Homo sapiens: one gene and its partner. The protein of the gene in region 1 interacts with the protein of each later gene in a pairwise test. Each region holds a gene or a part of one and is shown on either strand. Other genes may lie near its edges.

Evidence for each region.
Region 2: the proteins of SFRP1 (region 1) and FZD6 interact in binary tests that used the Homo sapiens proteins (3 or more experiments, as listed by UniProt).

The regions. Positions count from the first base shown.
Region 1 is NC_000008.11:41,306,449-41,314,260, forward strand, and holds the start of SFRP1 (secreted frizzled-related protein 1 precursor), read right to left. Parts: upstream 3,026-7,812; 5' UTR 2,712-3,025; coding exon 2,168-2,711; intron 1-2,167. UniProt on the Homo sapiens protein: Soluble frizzled-related proteins (sFRPS) function as modulators of Wnt signaling through direct interaction with Wnts. They have a role in regulating cell growth and differentiation in specific cell types. SFRP1 decreases intracellular beta-catenin levels.
Region 2 is NC_000008.11:103,301,882-103,308,918, reverse strand, and holds part of FZD6 (frizzled-6 isoform a precursor), read right to left. Parts: intron 1-7,037. UniProt on the Homo sapiens protein: Receptor for Wnt proteins.

The sequences.
Region 1 (7,812 bases):
CTGGTTTGTCTTGACCTGCCCTCTACACACCTACACACACACACACACACACACACACGCCCCACCCTCCCCTCCACAGGGACCTCGCAGGAAATCACGTGGGGCTCCCTTACACCAGGGATTGCAGTCCTGGGGAGGGTGGTGTGCCATCTCAGGGCAGAGCCCCCCACCAAAACCACTGAGGGGAAAACCAGTCCCAAGCCCCACTCCCGACCGGCCCTCTCCCCACTTTTCTCTTTGCTCCTCAAAGACCTGTCTTGGGAGGGTGACTACCTGAGCGCTGCTGGGAGGAGTGGAGGTGAGTGAGGACGGTTCCAAGCCAGGCTGAGAAGGGCGCCGACCAGTGGAACTGCAGCCAAGGGGCAAAAGGTGTCCGGAAGACAGCGATTATGGGGTTTCCCCATCCCATCACAGCCTTTTGGGGGCTGGGGTGAGGGATTCTTTCCTCTCTTCTTCAGGCAACCCGTCCAATCCCCCCATGTTCCCTGTGGACTGCAGCACCTTTTCCGCAGCCGAGCCCCCTAAGGTGTCCACTCATGTCTGCAGACGGTCCCAGAAAGAGACCATCGGAAGCCATTGGGAATGGACTCCAGGTCAGGGCTGGGCACAGCCTCACAGGGCAGGGCTGGGCTAATCCCCGCTGGCTGAGGAAGGGGAGAAGGAAATTCCCGCAGGCTGCAGGGGATGGGTGCAAGCCAACAGAACACAAGGCGCTTTGTTTGCTCCAGGTAACTGCTCAGTTCTCGCTCACAAAGTGCAGATGCATCCGCTACCCTCACTCCACTCCCAACACCAGAGTTGACTCTGAGAGCAGCGGTGCCCAGACCTGGCCACTGCGGGCAATCAGTGCCGTTCCCATCCAGCCATCCAACGACAGTCACTGTGGACCCATCTCCACCCTCCCTAGAATAAGCAAAAGCATCTAAAATTTGGGGTATCCCTTTCCCCCACCTGCCCAAATCCTCACTCTGAGGAGCCAGGTGACTGCACTCCCCTCTTTTAGCATCAATAACAGAGGTTAAAGACACTTTAAGGTGAGCTAAGTGTAGGCAGTCTTTCTCCCCCACCCTAAAGGCCCTCCTCAAAAAGCCCTCAGGAAGCCTGCGTCTGTGCTAAGCGCAGCTGGGGTACAGCTCCCCAATCCCTGACCCTCTCCACACCTCAGAGCCTAAACTTCGCTTCTAAAGAATTCTGGGTTGAATTTACTTCTATAGAAGTCAGGTCTGTGATGTGTATATTTTATCTTTATATCTATTTCATTTTATTTGACTTCCCAGGATTTTTTTTTCTTCCCCCTCAAGAATTGCTCTTTAAACATAAGGGGGTTTTGAGAGGAACCTCGGGCCGGTCCCTCAGGCTGTTAGGAAAGTCTGCATTTTGCAGAGCTGCTCTCCCCGGGAGGAGATGAACAATGAGCTAATTACATTTTTATCTTTCTAATGAGCTGAGGATTTGTGTAAATGAGAAAAGCAGGGGGTACGCTAGAGGGAGGGAGAAAAGACTTTCCACCCCCAGCCCTCCGAGGGCAGAGCTGGTACCTGGAAGGGGTGGAGAAACAGAAGTCCCCACGGTTCCTAAACTTTCTCAGCCAGTTTTGCAGCAATCCCAAGGCTACTTGACTGAATGACCAGTGAAGGAAAGGGCTTGGTTTTATTTTTTAAATCTTTGTCGAACCTATGAAAATAAACAAAAGCTGCTCCAAGCATTCTCTCGGCCTTTCTGAACTTTCTACGCTTTGGGTTTTTGTTTTTTCCTCCCGTCTCAGAGGTTAAAAACTTCGATAGGGACTCGGAGTCCTCCTAGAGGAGAGGGAAGCTCCCCTGTTATTTAAAGCGCAAGGCTTTGTTTCAGGTATGGGAAAGGCGAAGTTGGATCCCAGGAAGAGCGGCTCCGGGGACCACAGCGAGTCCCTGCGAGGCCAAGGCGCAGAGCTGCCGCTCCCGGGCCAGCCCCGCCGTGCACCTGGGTCGCGAGGGGCGCTGAGCGATACCTGGGACAGACCAGACGCGCTTAGGAATCACGTGCACAGCATGCGAGCAACCTCGGGCCCTCAGTCCCCAGCACCGGGACCCAGCGGCGGGCGGGCGTAGGGTGGCGCGGGTTCTCCTGCAGCTCCGGCCGGGGGATGGAGGGGGCGGCTCGCGCACGTGGGAGGAGGCAGCCTTACCTTGGGGCTTGGAGGCTTCGGTGGCATTGGGCGGCGTCATGGCGATGCAGACGTCCCCCTCGGGGAACTTGTCACACTTAAGCATCTCGGGCCAGTAGAAGCCGAAGAACTGCATGACCGGCTCGCACGAGTCGCGCACGGCCTCGCAGAGCCAGCGACACGGGTAGATGGGCCGGTCCAGGCAGACGGGCGCGAAGAGCGAGCAGAGGAAGACCTGGGTGCCGGCGTGGCAGTTCTTGTTGAGCAGGGGCACCCAGCTGCTGGCCTGCTGCTTCACCTCCGCCATGGTCTCGTGCTCCAGCAGGTTGGGCAGCACCATCTTCTTGTAGCCCACGTTGTGGCACAGCCGCAGGTCCGCGGGGATGTCCACGCACTGAGGTGGCTTGGTGTAGAAGCGCCCGCTCTGGTACGGGCCGATGTCCGACTGGAAGCTCACGTAGTCGTACTCGCTGGCCGAGCCCACGGCCAGAAGCGCCGCGCCCAGCGCCAGCAGCACGCCCAGGGCTGCCCCGCGGCGGCCCCCCTCGCTGCGCCCGATGCCCATGCCGGCTCTGCGCCCTGTTCTCCGCGACGTCGGGGCTGCCTCCGCCGCCTCCCCGCGCGCGTCCTGCCGCAAACTTCCAGGGACCTCCGGGGACAAAAGGCGCAGTCCCCAGCGTTGCCCGGCTCCGCGGCCGCAAGCTGCTGCCCGGTCCCCCCGGCCAGTGGCGGCCCTCGGCCTGCGGTCGGAGGCGGCGCGGGCGGGGAGGCGGCGCTGCGGGCTGGGTGCGCCCCGGCTCCCGGAGGTGCGGCGAGCAGGAAGGCGCGGGGCGGCGGGCGCGCGGCACTGACTCCGGAGGCTGCAGGGCTGGAGTGCGCGGGGCTCCTACGGCCGAGCCCTCGGAGCCGCCCCGCGCAGCCAATCAGCTCCCGGCGGGGCGAGCCGCACTCGTTACCACGTCCGTCACCGGCGCGGGAGCCAATCGCCTCCCTCGCGAGCGGGTTCGGTTTACTAGAACCAGACGCGGCTCAACACCCCTTAAAAAACAAAACCAAAAATACATAAATAAAAGGGGGAGGAGGAAAGAGACAAGGGGAGAAAAAGAAGGGGAATGGATCACGGCGTGGGGTGGAGAGAGACCAGGGCGGACGCTGTAATTAACTCGCATTGGCTTGCAGAGAAGCGGGGAGCCTGGATCATACTTGCAAACCCATGAAATTATGAAGACTTTTTTTTTTTGAGACAGTTTCGCTCTTGTTGCCTAAGCTGGAGTGCAATGGCGCTATCTCCGCTGACTGCAACCTCCGCCTCCCGGGTTCAAGCGATTCTCCTGCCTCAGCCTCCCGAGTAGCTGGGATTACAGCCGCGTGCCACCATGCCCCCGCTAATTTTTTGTATTTTTAGTAGAGACGGGGTTTCACCATGTTAGCCAGGCTGGTCTCGAACTCCTGACCTCAGGTGATGCTCCTGCCTTGGCCTCCCAAACTTTTTTTTTCTTTTTCTTTACACTGCTTCCTAATTTCAACCAACAGCCCTTTAGACTAGCGGCTCCTCTCCTCGGTTCTCTAGCTGCGGTGCAGACAGGTGGTTTCCCAACTAACAGGGGTTCAGGAAGGCTGAAGCGAGGGAGGTCTGCTTGTAAATACCCAGTGGGCCTGGCTGGGCTCCCTGGAAGGCGAGGCGAAGGCGCAGTTGGAGCTGTTTGCTGTGAGCAGCACCTCTCCAGGTGGGGCCGCCCATGGTGGCCCTCAACACTGGGGCAGTGGGTGGACTTTGCCCGGTGTGGCGGCAGGAAGAGCTGCTAGCAACGGTATTAGCTCTGGGAGGACACTTTTTTAAATATATAATATATATTTAAATAGAAAAACCCTACTCAAGTCCTAGCCCGGGCGACAGCACATCTGTGTGTTTGTGGTGTGGAAAGCCAAAACATTAAAAACACATGTGCACTTATCAGCGTGGCTGGTGTAAATACCAAGTCCATCACTCAGGCACACATGCTAAGGTTAGACCCAGTCCAGGAACTTCAAGTTAAAATCAAGGGTCCCCACTAGGGCAGACGCCAAGAGGACGGTATCAGCACAACAGCTCGGCCCCCAGGAACAGAAGTCTCTCTGCCACCTTCTACCTCGAATTCCTGAGAATTCTTCGTAGGTTTCAAACATTCCCCTGAGAGGGAGGGTTAAGCTCTGGAGAGCTGGGAGTGAGACCCGGACTATCCCGGGACAGAAGACCACAGCAAATAGTTCATGAAGTTCCTGGAGTCTCCATATCTTCTGTCCCTAAGTGCGGGTGGAGAGAGGCTGATATATTCATAGCCCAGTCTGAGCGCACACCCCATGTGGCAAAGGGGTCACAGATCTTAGCGCTCCACAGAGACACTATAGGGCGCGCTGCCTTGCCCGCCAGCTTGTTTGTAAAGCTCTAGGGAGCTTGCTTTGGACTCTGCAAACCTAATTTCTTGATGGACAGATTCCAAGTGAAATGACTAGAGTTTGTGAAGAAGCAGGGCTGTTTTCTTAAAGCATTCGTGCCCGTACAGACACGGTGATTCCACGGTGCACACAGGAGGCTTCTGCAGATGGATGACTTCTCTGTCATTTCGTGGCCAATGGAAGATGCCTTGACACTCAAAAGGTGACATGGAGGCTGGAAGGAAAACACAGAGAAGAGAGAGCAAGATCGGGATGGCCAAGGGTTAATCCCAAGACAATTGGTGAGGCCGGCCTGTGGAGCTGAGGAAGACATTCCTCACAGAGAATAAGACCGCAGGAGACCCGGCAACTGTGTCTCAATTCAAGGGGCATTTAGAGAAAAATGCTGTTTGGTAGGGGGTCTTTTTGTCTCCTAGGGCCAGGCCCTCCACCTCAAGCCAAATGCGTCTGTTTGCTCACTGCAAAGATGGATGTTTGCAGATAACATCCTCTCACCTCTGAACCCAGGCTTAGCTGACCGCTCACTCACGTTTTCAGTTTTCCCGAATGGCAGGAGGACTTGTGTCTGTCCACGGTTAAATGCTGGAAATTCGTCCAGGTGACTGCCCTGGAAGTCCCAAGTCAGGAGTAAATCTCACAAATCCATTCAGGGGAAGACCTCGCCTATGTCTGGTCACTCCGAGTAGACTTTGATCACCTCCAGTCACCACCTCCCCCACTCACCCCTAGTGGTCCTACTGCTTTACTGACCCCTGCTGGGAACACAGTTGTCTCTCCGTGGAACAGGGAGTGATGGGAGAAGACCCCAAATCCTAAATCCAGTGCACTCCTGACTCCTCCCAGACCCAGCTGGAAAGGAAGGACCCTAAGACCTCAGTCCCACCGAGAGACTTTAATCCATTCCTGGGATGTGGGAGAGGGACCACCCGCCCCCCGTCCTCTCGGGAAATTCACATGCTGCATAACAGCACCAGGCAGAACAGCCTGAAGACTTTGTATTGCAGAGGTACATACAGTACTTTTGTCCTTTTACTTATTGTCAACTCTTTGCACTTCAAAATCCAGTCCCCCTTTTCCTAATGGCAAGTGTGTGTGTGTTTGTGTGTGCACGCACTCCTGTGTGTACAGCAGAAGGTTCTAGAACAAAGGCCCTTTAAACATGCAACTGACATGACAGAGCTCCCAGATATGAGGGTTCCTGAGTATGAGAACTGTGGGCCAGGAGACATATCCTCCCTCCTTTTTGAATGGCTTAAATAAACAGAGGCAAAATGCAGCTTTAACTTATGTTTCTCATTTCCCAGAAGTTCTGCTTTTCCCACACTGCTAGATGCCCATGCATGAAGCCTGAAAGTTCGTCCTCTGTTGCTTCAAAACACCAGCTTCAGGAGGCATTCTCAGTTCTTCAGCCTCCACAGAGGGTCACAGAGGGCCCCCCCAGGTGCCTCCCAGGTGGCCTCTTCCCACACGCAGAGCTTTTTCCTGGCTTCTCCTGGAAAAACTGGGAGGGGAGCCTTCCCAGCCACAGCTCCCATTGTGTTCCACTATCATATCATCAGTGATGTCTGCCATCCTCTCCAAAGATACATTCAGCTCGCTCTCCCTCAGCCAGCAGCACTAGGGAGGGAGCTCCCGCCTGAAGCTGGGTATCTGTGGGTCAGGGGCAATGCCAAGGAAAGCATGCTGGCCCACAGTCAGTGGACACAGGCTACAGCCTCAGCTCTGCTCCTAACTGGCTGGGCGACTCATGGGAATCGCACTTCCTCTCTCTGGTCTTAGTGTTCTCATCTGTGAAACAGAGCTATTAATGCCTGCCCGGCTGCCCTGCTAGCTCAGAAGTGTGAATTCTCAGCATGTAGGGTCACTCGAGGCACATCCTTAGACTTCCAGGCAAGTCTGAAGGGGCCAAAGTGGTATTCGTTGTCAGATGCCTTGAAACCTGGTCATGCTCTTACTTGGACAAGCTTCTTCTGCATTCTGCCTCTGTAGATGTGTAATCCTGATCCTTTCTAACTCTTTAAAGAACTGGCCTGACCTGCTAACTGAAGTCTGGGAATGTCTGGGAAGCATCTTAAAAATTTGGAGTTGAAGGCAAATTCCAGCCCCATCTCTTCATCTCTTCTTAGAGTAAGCACCCCTACCTCTTCATCTTTTTTTTTTTTTTTTTTTTGATACAGAGTCTCACTCTGTTCCCCAGGCTGGAGCGCAGTGGCAGGACCTTGGCTCACTGCAGCCTTGACCTCCTGGGCTCAGGCAATCCTGCCACCTCAGCCTCCCAAGTAGCTGGGACTCCAGATGCAGGCCACCACACCTAGCTTTTTTTTTTTTTTTTTTTTTTTTTTTTTTTTGAGCAATGGGATTTTGCTATGTTATCCAGGCTGGTTTTGAACTCCTAGCCCCAAGCAATCCTCCTGTCTCAGCCTCCCAGAGTGTTGGGATTACAGGGGTGAGCCACCGCACCCAGTCCTCTGCACCATTCTTGACAGAAGCTAACGGAGCATCCCTTTTATTTGTTTGGGATATAGTCACCAAGTTCAGACAATCCACTAGAATGTTCTTCCTTCCTTGAAGGGAAACTCTGCTCCCTGTAATTTCTTACTAGGCCATCCTAGGATCAGTTCCTATCGTAAGCAGCCAGGAAGACACCCTCAGCGGAGCCCCAAACTGGGAGGCCAAGGTCACCGTCCCCGCCCCTCCACTCAGACAGTCACACCTGCCCACTCTCCAGGCGAGGTTCTGTCAAACTGGGCTTGACAATTTTTGTTCATTTATTACTACATTAATTAATTTATAATTTATATTATAAATATATTCATGCCTATAAATATAATTTTTATATAAATAAATGAAGACTTGTATACCACCTCTTAGAAAGAAGAGAACTAAAAATAAAAGGCATATTTTAAGATGACTTTTTAAATAGAAATAAAAATATCAAATGGACTATTTCTCTGATTAAAATTCTCACACACTCTTTGTCCACAGGAAAAAGCCCAACCTCCAGGATAGTATCAAGACTCAGCCCTGACCCCCATGACCTCTCCAGCTTCACCTCCCCAGCACCCCCCACCAGCCTAGTTTCCAGTCTCCAGAAGTACTTGCACTTTCCCACCCAATGGCTTCTCGCTTGCCTCTCATCCTGGGCTCATGCTGTGTGCACATGCTGTTTTCTCTATCTGTAATGCCTTTCACTACTTTTGTACAAACTACTACTCATAGGGTTTCCAGAT
Region 2 (7,037 bases), about 62 Mb from region 1:
GTAAGATACAAGTGCAGATGAGGAGATTAACCCTACATAATTAAAAGGGACCTTGGCTTTTGCTACTAGTTCCTCATAGAAACTAAACAGGAGAGAACATCTAGAGATCATCAGGTCAAGTTACCTCTCATGAATTGAGTGTTACTGAACTCACCTACTCATGATGTCAGGGACCAACTGCATTCCATCTTCAAGTGGCTGGATAGATCTCAAAGATACGGGAAAGTAGCATATTGCTTGCATTCTCAGAATGCCTGCTTCTGCCATATTATAATTCTTTCCTTAAAACACACCTACGTCTTCAAGCAGAGTTCCCTCTCACCAAATGACTCATGAAGAAACAATTACAGCCTGGCTTACAATAGCTGGCCCCAGCTATTGTAAGTGAGCTACTATAGGATTATAACTCCATTCAGAGGTGGCCCTAGCAGGCAGAACTTCAATCACTGTCTATGTTATCAGTAGAAAGATGGTCTCAGGTAAGAAGTTATATTGATTCATGGGCTATAGCTAATGGTACAACAAGATAGGGACTTGCAAGCAACAAGAGCTTGGAAGAGTTCTACAGAACTGGTATTAGGAGTCCGGAAAAGCAGTGTGTGACTGGACTTCTCCAAAATGGGCCTATAATCTCAAAAAAAATTTTTTTTGCATGTGAATGCAAACCCAAAGGCCCCAAGACAGAGGAGGCTCTTAAATGTGTAGACTAAATAATCTACTCTGTGGATGTCAATCAGCCTTTTCTCTAGTTGCACCAGTATAGGCTTAACAGGCTCAGGAACAAAACGGCCATGGTGGCAGAAGAGTGCCCAGATCCAATAGCATAGACTTTTCCTTCTTGGGGTGATCTGGCTACTGCTGAGTAGTTCATTTGCCAGAAGCAGAGCAGTAACCAACCTTAAGCCCTCAATATGGTATCATGTTCCAGCAGGATCAACCAACTATCTAGTGTCAGGTTAAGAAGTATCCTGGATAATTTCCATCCAAGAGTTGTCCTCACTGAAATCCCTTGCTTATAAGTTCCCAAGTAGACCATACCTGTGCCAGCATCTTAGCTGTAGCATGTTTCCTTACAGCCTGAGCTTGAATTCTAGCCCACCTGGCGATTCTATGAGCTACCTGCTACTCTTATAATCAATTCCTTTTCTGCTTAACCAGTCTGGGTACCCTAAGATGGAAAGGACATGAAAAAAAAAAAACACACCTTAGAACACAAGGAAAGGAGGCTCCTTCTTCAGAGTTAAAAGAATTAAGAGCTATATAAAATCAATGAAAGAATGACCAGGGCAAAATAATATTAAAATAAGTCTAAAAGTATTTTTTGGAAATGAGTAAACAAGGGCAAAAAAGTAATCTAAGAAAATAAGCCTTTGTCAAAAAGTAGAACTGAAAGTACAATGACAAAAACAGATAGGTTGTTTTACATTCCCTCCACTAGAATATAAATTCTGTGAGGGCATATAGGTCTGTTTGTGCATTACTGTATGTCAAGTATCTGAACAGTGCTTCAAATATTTATTTATTTAGGCATTCAAATATTTGTTGAATGAATAAACACCAGCTAGTCTCAGTGAAATATACAGGGAAAGGACCAGCTAGCTCCTGATGCTATAATAATATGATAATGAAAGGAACCATAATATGGGCCTGGGGTTGGTGGCACTGTAAGATCCTGAAGGGAAAGTCTGGGCTAGAATTTTAATTGAGAGGGGTCAAAAGAAGGAACTATTTGGTTTCTTAAAAATATATAAAGCATAACCTAAGCAGAGTGGTCCTGTGGCAGTATCTTGGCAGTGCCTTGCTTCCCTGAGTACTGAAAATATGGGATACATAAACGTTTGTCACTTTTCTGAAGCATGAATCAGAATCCCACTGGTACATGGAAGCAAGCCACATCACCAGTGAACAAGACCAAGTGACTCCAAAGCCTCTGATCCTAAGCTCAGGATTTGTGCTTTCTACTCATGGTGACATACACAGTAACTCCCATGCAGTGAGAAAAGCTATATTTCTTGCTCTAAATTGGCACCAAAAACAAAGTCGATTTACAGTGATGGTGATTAAAACTGAGTGAAGGAAATTTAAAATGTCATTAAAAAAAGTGATGAACCTGGGGCCAGGCGCGGTGGCTCACGCCTGTAATCCCAGCACTTTGGGAGGCCGAGGTGGGTGGATCTTGAGGTCAGGAGATTGAGACCATCCTGGCTAACATGGTTAAACCCCGTCTCTACTAAAAAAATACAAAAAAATTAGCCGGGCTTGGTGACGGGCGCCTGTAGTCCCAGCTACTCGGGAGGCTGAGGCAGGAGAATGGCGTGAACCCAGGAGAGGGAGCTTGCAGTGAGCGAGATGGCGCCACTGCACTCCAGCCTGGGTGACAGAACGAGACTCTGTCTCAAAAAAAAAAAAAAAAAAAAAAAAAAAGTGATGAACCTTAGCAAAACAACAGGCTCACTAAAGTCTAAAGGGGCCCTTAAATGTTTTCAGTTAGACTTCACTGGGCAAATACTGTTTAAGTGGTTACAAAAGTCTTGAGTAAATTCTTTGAGAATGTCAATGGACTACTGTATAGGAAAGTGGTGCAAATTTTGCTACCTATTTTCACGAATGTGATCAATCTCAGGCAAGTCAGCTTCTTTAAAAAATGTAAAGTGGAGCCTGGAATACAAGAGAACAAAAAGCAGGAATTTACATTATTTCCATAATGGAAAACTTGTTATTTTTAAACTATTTCTTGTGAGGGACCATTAGAAAATTTAAATCATTTCTCCAGAAGAGAGTACCTTTGGAAATTAGACAAATGTACATATTAACTGATTGATACTACAAAGGAATGTGTCTAGAATAAATTACTTTTTTAATGTAAACCTTAGAACTTGAAAAACTGTAATTCTGGGAGAGCTACATATTCAGGTACATATTCAATAAATATGAATGAACACATGACAAATATATAACCTAGAGTAATAAAGCTTCATTATTTACATGCCACATTCTTGGGGAAAGGAAATAATCACAACAGTCTTCCCATGGAATACTAAGGAATGGACTAGGAACCTTGTGCTTATCAGCAGAGCCTCCCAGGAGAAATATCCTTTCTCTTCACATACAGGCCTGCCCTTATTCTGCAGTTTCAAAAGAAGGAGTCAAGGGACTTTCCCTGCTACTGCAATGCAACATCACGAAGGAAGGTTTCTACCTTTAAAACACAACAGTAGTCATTATACACGCAACTGGCTTGGAACACTTCTCACTATTTATTTCATTTTATATGATTAATGTCTTACTTTCAGAATAGCTACAGTTATTTTCAGATAGTCTTTCCTGAAAAACAAACAGGTTAATCTCACTAAACATTTTCTTTATTTGTGTATGGACATACAAGGGTAGAGAATATGGAAGAAAGGTGAAAGCAGGAAGGGACTGGACTCTTCTAAAAGCAGGAAAATAAAAATGCTTAAAAGCCACTATACAACAGAAATAGATATTTTCCTTAAAAGTCTGTTTATCCAGTTTTTCTCCATTTATTTTTAACTGAATAGAGACATTCTAACAGCACATATTAACAGGTGGAAAGGAAAGTTGTTTTTTTTCTTTTGGCCCACTTCCCTTTAGACTGTTTAAAAAGGGAATGACCACTTGCTGCTCCAAACACAATACGTGACCTGGCTTTTGCCTAGACCTCAATGAAGGCAATTGAAAAAGAAAAATACAACATTCCTGTTTCCATTTTCCCTAGATCAGTCTCAGCTCTTTCTGGATGAAATCAGTCTCTCAAGGGACCTCAATCTCACAATGCTCTAGATATGAAACAAAAGGAACACAATGGAAAACCAGTAGCCATTTGTTTTTCCACTTGGGAGAGTTAGACTGTACATCCTTTTCATTACAAAGCCCCGTTACTATGCAGAATTGTAAATTAACTCTTTGTAATACAAATGATTTCAGGTTCACATAATAAAATTAGGAAAAAACTGAAGTCCCTCATTTTAAGCAATCTCTGAAACAAAACTAAAGAACCAAGATGTCCCAGTCAGATCCTTTTGGTTTGTGATAAATTTTACTTTAAAAAATTTATGTGGAAAGTAAGTAACAAATAACTCAGTTAATGTATTAACATAAGAATGCACAATAATGTCCACTTATTTCATTCTATACTATCCTTAAAACATTTTCAAGTACTTTAAACCAAGGTTCAGCAAACTGTAGCCCCTGGGCCAAATATAGCCCACTGCCTGTTTTTGTAAATAAAGTTTTATTGAGACACAGCCACACTCATTTGTTGGCATATTGTCTGACTGCTTCTGTGCTACAATTTCAAAGTTGAATAGCTGTGACGGAGACTGTATGGTCTGGAAAGTCAAAATAATTTGGTCTTTTACAGTAAAAATTTGCAATCCAAACTTCTAAACCAGTGGGTCTTGAACTTTAACACTCAAAAGAAACACCTGGGCAGCTTGTGAAACCACAGCTGCGCTCCATCTTCAGAGATCATGATTCAGTAAGTTGGGATAGGAGTCTGTGAGCTTGCATTTCCAACAAGCTCACAAGCTGCTGGTCTATGAACTAAAGTTTAAGAACCACTGCTCTAAACCATCTCATATAATCACAGATTAAAAATGACCATAAATGCTTAAATTCTATAAAACAGGCTAGCTGTTACAAAATGAAAACTAGGAACAAAAAAGGAGTGAGATAGATCTTTTGACTTATACGGAATTCTCAGTGACTAAGAGAGTACAATTCATTGCCATAGCCATCAGGCAATTTTTCAGCCCCTCATCCTAACACTAATTCACAGTGAATCCTGGAAATTCAATAGGAACCAGCAGAAACTAAAGGTAATCGGGTTGGAGGTGTAAAACCCAATCTGATCTTTAGAGAAGCTATAAAACACATTTTTAGTAAAAGCCAAGTTACAAGCAGCTATAATTTAGTACTCAACTGGAATATACACTTAAGGACTAAAGTACAATGTTTGAAAAAAAAAAAACTGACTCATATAGCTTATAATCCAACGGTCCGATCAAAAGTTGAATTCCTTTACTTCATATAAATAACTAGAAATGGTTAAAAATCAAATTCTTTAAGCAAATTCTAATGAATATGTGTAGAGCTAATGTGGGAAACAAAATAGAGGATGTCAACTGATATATTTCATTACAGCTAGGCTCAGACAGAATGAAAAAGAATGATATGTAAACCACCTAAAAATATTAGTATGTCTTTGACTTGGACACTGTAGATGATAGAAGTGGAATGTAAAGATTTGGAGGGAAAATTCCCTTTGCTACCTTATTGGGACATAAAATCCTACCTTTTTCTTTATTTAGCTTTTATGTAGCCTCTACCATGCTCAGAGGCATTGTACTTAGTATTAGGGATACAGATGAAAAAAAAACACCATCCCTACCTTCAACAAACTCTCAATCTAGAGACATGTAGATTCACTGTAAAATAGCATAAGAACAACTGTACATTATAAGTACTGTAAGGGTGTAGAGTGGGGTGATTAAATTTGCTCAGGAGAAAGGTGAAAGAAGGGTTCGCTAAAAACAGTTATTGCTTTAACTGAGAACTGAAGGAATTGAGCAGGTGAAGAAAGGTAGGTAGACAGACGGCTCACCAGAGGATAGAGTGTGTGTAAAGATACAGAGGTGATGGACAGTAATATGGATTTGAATTCTCCAAATAGGTCAGTTGGCTGAAGCAGAGTGTGCAATGTGGGAAGGTACAAGATGAGAGACTGGACAAGCAGCCAGGGTCCCACATGAAGGGCCTGGAGTGCTCTAGAACCAGGTCTTTTTTTCCCCAGCTTTAGGGAAAATGATGAAGGATTTTAACCCTAAAGTGGACTGCACAAATTTGAATTATAATAAAATCATTGTGGCACCACTAGAGAGACTGAAGATTAGGGAGTTAACTTTTGCTTTGTTTTTGTTGTTTTCATTTTGTTTTGTTGAGTTGAAGTCTCACTCTGTTGCCCAGACTGGAGTGCAGTGGAACGATCATAGCTCACTGCAGCCTCCAACTCTTGGGCTTAAGTGATCCTCCCACCTCAGCCTCCAGAGTAGATGGGACTACAGGTGTGCGCCACAGAGATTTTATTTTTGGTCTAACAAGACTTTGTATTCAAGGCACTTGTAAGAAGGAAAAAGAGAGACAGAGCTAAACAGAGGTAAAACAATCACCCAGTTTAATTTTTATCTAAATGAAGTTTGCAAATAAGTAGCAAAGTCTGAAATTTACACATTGCATTCTAAATCATAAGAAATATTATCTTGTTTATCCAATCAGGACAAGGGCCTAAAAAAAAACCAGTTAAAGATGACATTATGGTCCATGTAGACAGAGAAGACTATCAGATTAGAGTGCTCAAAGGGACAAATCGCAGCTTTTCTGGGTTTCAGTTTCTTCATCTGTATAATGAAGGGTTCGGGGGTTCTTTACCTGAGCTATATTTCAATATAATTTGTTTTCTTTGTAATCCTACACATTTTATTTATTTAAATATTAAAACTTCTCTTATCTTGAGAAGGGGTTAATGTCATAAAAAAGGTTAAGAAGCTCTATATGATCTTTAGGGTCACTTACAACTCTCAACTTATAGGATTTTGGACATTCAAATACAGGAACTAAAAGAGAATACTACTGTATATGGATAAATAGGAAAGGGGCAGTAGGAAAAACACAATAGTATACACTGAGAAATTACATATAGGGATTAAAAGTCTGAGCCAGGGTGACATTATTTTTGCCTTTTCATTTCTCTTTCCTTTCTTCTATAGACTTAGGTTAATGCTGGTATTGTGACTGCTTGATGGCTCTCTTCTTTTGTATCCTTAAATTTACTGAAGTATGATTTATAGCAAAAAAAAAAACTTCATTAGTAAAGGCTATGAGAAAGGTTAGTTATAAGTGGAAAATTATATAATGAAGAGATTGGTAGTATTAGCAATCATATAAAAGAGGTAAGAACAAAAAGCCTTCTTGATAATATCCAGGCACAAAACTACTTGGGAAAGAAGCTAGGTAAA